Regions from separate parts of the Homo sapiens genome. Here region 2 is linked to region 1. Evidence: fine-mapped expression QTL. A gene starts in region 1. The other region holds a variant in brackets. All regions are shown on one strand. Distances are from middle to middle.

Region 1 (2,901 bases):
GTGATATGATGCTGCTGGTCAGCTGGCTTGGAGCTGCTTACAGGACAGGGGCTGTGATTTATTGATGTTTATATGACCAGTGCCTACACCATATCTGGTATAGTATAGCGCTCAGCAAACGTTTCTGGTATGAATAAGGCCTTCTCTGTGAAATGTTTCCCCCAATTTTCCTTGATTAAATCAGTTCAACAAAAATTAGGAACCTGTCTACCCCTGACACATGACTCCTAAAGGGCTTCCTTTAAGAGCACAAACAACGTTCCAGATTCCCTTCTTCTCAGAGGCTGATGAAGCATTATCCTGGATAAGAACCCTGGACCATGAGGTTCCACTCGAATCCCGACAGAGACGCGCGAAAGGAGAGGCAGGGGAGAGAGTTAAGCCTGCACCAAGCTTCATTAACAGCTATTGGGAGGCAAGTCCTGGCCCCGAGGCTCAGCCAGGCCTGGATAACCGGACCGCCTGGAACCCAGAGACCTGATAGCCTGTGGCCTGGGAAGGAGACGCGAGGGGCTGCGGGGCCTAAAGGCGCCGGGCTCTCCGCAGCGCCACGCCTTGCGCCCGGCGCTTACCTTTCCGAATGAGGGCGGCGATCTCGGGGTCGAAGCCCTGCCGGTGGCACTTCCTCCAGAGGCCCATGTTGGTGGAGTTGTACTGCCGGCTGCACTCGTCCGCGGGGCTCATGGCGAACAGCTGCCGGCGATTCCGGGCCCGGAGGAGTTTGCCCTCCCAGCGGTCCAGGCGCGAGCGGCTCGCCCGGAGCGGCAAGTTGTTGTTATTGTTGTAAATGAAGCCGGGGTCGACCCGGCGGGTGTTGAAGGCCTTGCACCTGTCCCTGTGCTTCCTGGCGTCCGTCTCGTACCAGTGGTCCGAGCAGATGGCCACGGCCAGCATGCCGAGGGCGCAGAGCGCTAGCGAGAGGCCAGTGTAGAGCAGTAACCTTCCGGCAGCCATGCCTCCGCTTGGCGGCTACACCATGGGCATGATCCGCCGCAGCCTCGCCTTCCCTCGCCGCACCCGGAACAAAGCGGCGGGCGGCCGAGCTGGGGGAGGGGGCAGGAGAGGGACTCGCGCCGCGGCGCCCCCTCGGCCCCCGCCTACCGGAGCACGGCCCGGGGACTGCGGGGATGGGGGCGGGCGGCCTAAAAAGTTCTGATCCGGAGAGGCTCCCGCGGGCTCCTGGGCATCCTCTGAGGCAGGTGCAGCCTCCGGCGGCGGCGAACCCAGCGCGGCCGCCTCCCGCCCCCTCCCCGCCCCGCAGGAAGCGACTGCCCCGAAGCAGCCGCCTCGGCTCCCAGCCCGGCTTCGGGCGCCGCTGCCCTCGGGCCGGAAACTAAATGCCAAGTGTCCTCGGCTGCGGTGGGGCTTCTTTGTGCAGGATGGTGACGGGACAGAACTCGCCTGTCTCTCTGAGGGGGACGGGGGGTGCTGTCAGGAGGCGCCACTGGACCACCGGGTGAAGTAGAACGCCCCGGATGCGGCCGGCGGGCGAAAGAAACCTCCAGGTGCTGGGGCCGGCTTCTCGGAGTCCCTCCTGGGTCTCTGGCTCAGAGCCTCTCCCCCTCCCCGTCTGCAAGCAAAGACCTGGGGCGCGCACCCAGAAATGTTCTTCCTCTTTGGGTCGGGTCCTCTTAAAATCTCCGTTCTCTGGTCACCAGCAGGTCGGTTGCTCCTTCTGACCCGCGTGCTGCGCTCAGAGGCGCACTCCCCGCGGACGCACGCTCTCGGCCGACCTTTCCCCGCGAGCTCCCCGGTGCCCTGCCTCTGGCATCGCCATTCAGGCGGCCCCTCGGGCCGACAGCGTGTTCACCCGGGCGGCGTTACCGGACGAGACCCGGCCTGGGATCTGCGGAGACTGGGCGGCTGCTGGCGGACGCGAGGGGCGGGCTGCGCGGCGGAGGGTGCACCAGGCAGCGCTCACTGCGCGCGGCGCTAGGGGCTCGGCCCACCGCGCCTTCAACACCATGGACAGGTCACGCCGCCACGGCGCGCTGCCGGCCCAGCCGCCAGCCCCCGAGCGTCACGCAGCTCTTCCCAGCGCCGTCTTCTGCCTGGAGTGTCCACCCGACCGCCTCCGGACCCGGCTCTCCCGCGACGCCTCCGCCTCACTTCATCTGGCACCCGGGAGCCCCGGGAGCCTGCCGCCCAGGTGCAAAGAAAATGCCGCAGGCACCGAAGAAAACCCCGGTCCCGGCCCCTCCAAACAATCCGCCCCTTTCTCCAGGCACCTGAGCCCTTGGCACTCTGGCACCCCGTCTGCTCTGCCCAGCTGGGCTCAGTCGCTCTCAGATTGCACCATTTTCTTCGCAGCCCACCCGGGCGCCGAGATGCCGGCTCACTCGACAGCGTGCAGAGAATCCCGTCCTGGCCTCGGCGTCCCACGATCCGGCTCCCGGCGCGCGGTGGTCGCCGAGATGAATGGGGAGAGGGTGGGGGAGGGAGGCTGGGTCACTCGGCTTCCCCTCGTCGCCTCCTCCTCTAGCCGCGGCGGCTCCGAGGCCTCGCAGGCTCGGCTGGTGCCCGGGAGGCGCGAGAGCCCAGGCTGCGCCCAGGGGACTGGGGAAATCGCATTGCCCGGGTGCGGGCGCCGGAGGAAGCTGCTGCCGCGCTCTCTCGTCCGGCGCGGGTAGCTGCAGCCTTGGCTAAAACCCACAGACGAGAACACCGAGCGCGCAGCCAAAAGCTAGTGATGTCATCCGTGCAACGTGAGCCTCATCTCTTATTTTTCTAGTCTCCTTAAAGATAAACTGCACCATTTCCCAGGCACGAAATGTCTAAGTCTTATTCTTTGACCAGGCAAGTCAATGGTGTCTAGATAGGTATGTGCCCAACCACATCCATATTTATGCACATATACATATATGTGGTATGTAGCATGTTTACATGCATTATTATAAATTT
Region 2 (2,901 bases), 320 kb before region 1:
CTGCTGCCCTGATGCCAGAGGGGCCAATATCACAGCTCTAGCTCTCTTCTGAGTCCCCATTTGCCCGATAACTACTGCAGCCAGGCTCTGGGCTGCTGGGGACAGTGGGGGCAGAACTTCCTTGCCTCTGCCTCGGGTGGGCGAAGAGATGCATTCTTGTCATTACACATGAGGAATTGGAATATAGCTTCCTATGAAAGTATTCCTAATGGCAATTAAATTCTATATTAGCCAATAGAGAGAAATAATCAGACTTGGGGTGAGAAAATCAGGGGCAGTAACTAAAGGATTTGCTCATATCACATAGGTAGCTAGTGACAGAGCTGAAACCAGAATCCAGGGCTCCTAACTCCCAGCTCAGTTACAAATGGGCTGACGGGTATTTACTCACTGGCTGGAGAACCTGTCTGCCATTCATAGCATGATGCCTATCAGAAAATGTGTTCCAAGTTCCAAGTCACCTACTATGGAGAAAATCCAGACCATGGCTCATTCTAAGTTGGAGGCTGGTGGCTCTGGGTAAGGTCCGTCCGTCTCAGGGCTTGCTGGAGAGGTCTGACTCAGGGAAGTGACGTTACTCCTGACCTGATTTGCCAACAGAGGGATCTTCACAGCACAAATGGCCTCAGGATTCCCATGTTAAAGGAAGTCCAAAAATTACTCAAGAGAAGAACCTTTTCTTGTCTCTCAAGGCTCTGCTTACTTAAATTGGTTTTTATTTTTCCTCTCTCACTGTACCATTTCTGGGGGAAAGAAGCTGGATGAAACAGTTAATCACTATGATTTTGGGCAGAAAATTCCACGATCTCATTACTTCAGGCACCAACTGAAGTTCATCTTCTGTGCAGCCCTCAACCTTCAATGAACGTGAGCTGACCCCATGGTGTTCTTACGGTGATGATGGCAGTAATAGTGACACTATTCCCACATCTCGTTTCCCTCCTCAACAATGCTCATGGGACAAAAAACCAAGCTCAATTTTGATGACATTTTGTCCTGTTGGCTCTCTTTTTCTCTCCTGAATGAATGACAATAATCACAAATGTCTTGGAGAGCTATTGTCCCCATACAGAATTGATGGTGAGATTTCAACAACCCCCAACCCTCAGCGACTGTTGAAGTGTGTTTTTTACCAGCTCCATTATCACTTTGTCTCTCATTTCCACTCTGCAATGCTGACCTTCTTTATCCTCTCTCTGGGCTCATGTGGACATCTAACAGACTGCTAAGATGGGTCACTGTGCCCACTGTCTGTGTCTTGTTCCTTAAACCTTATCCCATTTTTCTCTTCTTTGAGGCCACATATGGAGCAGCCTCTAGCCTGTGAACAGATGCAGATATTATGATGGGAGGAAGAAAGGCAGTGGTCAGCCCAAGCGTGGGTTGAAACTTTTCTAGTCCCAGCGCTGTCGCCTCATCTTTCTGAGGCTCTGTTTTCCACTCTGCAGTATGAGAGGCCCAGACCCGTTGAGCCCTGAAGGTCATTCTGGCTCTCAAAGACCTTCAAGGCGGCAAATGCCGCAGAACCAGGGACCCCTGCGGCACAGCAGAGTAAGTATGGGG[C/A]GCCTTTGGGAAAAAGGCAGGCGAGTGGCAGGTGGGAGTAGGCATGGGCGATGGGAAAGTGGTAGGGTATTTGCCTCTTTTAACATGTTGAAACAGATTCTTACTCTTCTTACTTTGGATTTTGGGCAGCAAACTCCTGGGAGGGGAGGCACGCAAGAAGACTGGGAACAACTTGGGATGCCCAACAGGTGAGGCGTGCTGGCCTGACAATGCCACTCTTTCCCTGCTGTGATGGCATGGCCACCCCCAACCCTGAGCTGTTGCCTGGCTCCCCACCTCCCCTCTCTGAGAGAGCTGGTGAGCACCCCCAAGCCCCTTGCATCACTCTCTCTCTCAGGGCATGGCCAGATGCAGAGCTGGGAGGATCCCCGTATCTCCTTGAATGACTAAGGGTGAAGATAATTCTATTACCAGTAATAGTATGTTGTAAATTTCCCAAATCCACCTGTTAATTAGTGCCGCCCCCTCCCTCTCCTCCTGAATATGAAGCAACGCTGTATAATCATGGCATTTTGTGGGTGACGCTGTTTATTATATGTGGTATTTCAGTGGTTTGTGTGGGAGAAAGGATGAATTATAGCTCTCTGGTTCCAACCCATTCCCAACCCCCATGCCCATCCTTCTCTCCCATTCCCCTGATATAGAAATCCATATGTGTATAAATAAGCACATGAATATACAGTGCTGATTTGCCATTGACTGAGGGGGAGCAGAGTGTGGTGGAGTGAGGACAGAGCCAGACGCCATCACCTCGGGTTCTGGAACCACTGAAGACTGGCAGGGAGGCCTTGGGGAGACCTCTGATGTCACTAGGCTGCAGCTTCCTTGTCCTAAGAAGAGAGTAACCAACCAGCTCTGCTCCTCCTCTGAGCTTCTGAGGAGATCCAAAACAAGGAAACTCTGGAAACTGAGCAATGCTATCTACTTGTGAGGTGAAATTCTTTTTGATTTTGTTTTTGAGACAGGGTCTCCCTATGTCGCTTGGGCTGGAGTGCAGTGGCATGATCCCAGCTCCCTGCAGCCTCAACCTCCTGGGCTCAAGTGGTCTTCCTGCCTCAGCCTCCCAAGTGGCTGGGACTACAGGCACTCATCACCAAGTGTGGATAATTTTTTTGTATTTTTTGTAGAGATGGGGTTTCACCATATTGCCCAGGTTTGGAAATTCTTAGTAACTGCTCTACACTTCTGTGGATTCCTTCTGTAGATTCTCCTGGAGTATATTTGCAGCCAAATTTCTATGGATACTAAGGGACTAGAATCAGGATGATTAGATAAAAACAAGTAGGTGTCCAGGGGTCAGCAGTGGAGGACTGCCCAGTGTCTGGACAAGGCAATTGG

Which allele goes with the higher level. Alleles are on the strand shown, and positions count from the first base shown. SD is a standard deviation of normalised expression in the study named.
In carriers of allele C in region 2, the expression in aorta of the gene that starts at base 1,201 in region 1 tends to be higher than with A alone (large effect, 0.86 SD a copy in GTEx).

What was found. PIP is the estimated chance that this variant, and not a neighbour inherited with it, causes the effect.
Region 2: its variant is the best candidate, but not a certain one, in a credible set for the expression of TMEM178B in aorta (GTEx, PIP 0.72).

The regions. Positions count from the first base shown.
Region 1 is chr7:141,072,364-141,075,264 of GRCh38, reverse strand. It overlaps TMEM178B (transmembrane protein 178B), which reads right to left and starts at 1,201. Exons shown (of 4, transcript NM_001195278.2): 1 at 573-1,201. The coding sequence starts at 954.
Region 2 is chr7:141,395,061-141,397,961 of GRCh38, reverse strand. All of the region lies in intron 2 of TMEM178B (transmembrane protein 178B), which reads right to left. Among named protein-coding and RNA genes, the nearest start is that of AGK-DT, 150 kb to the left of the region's middle. The variant C/A (reference allele first, on the strand shown) is at 1,564.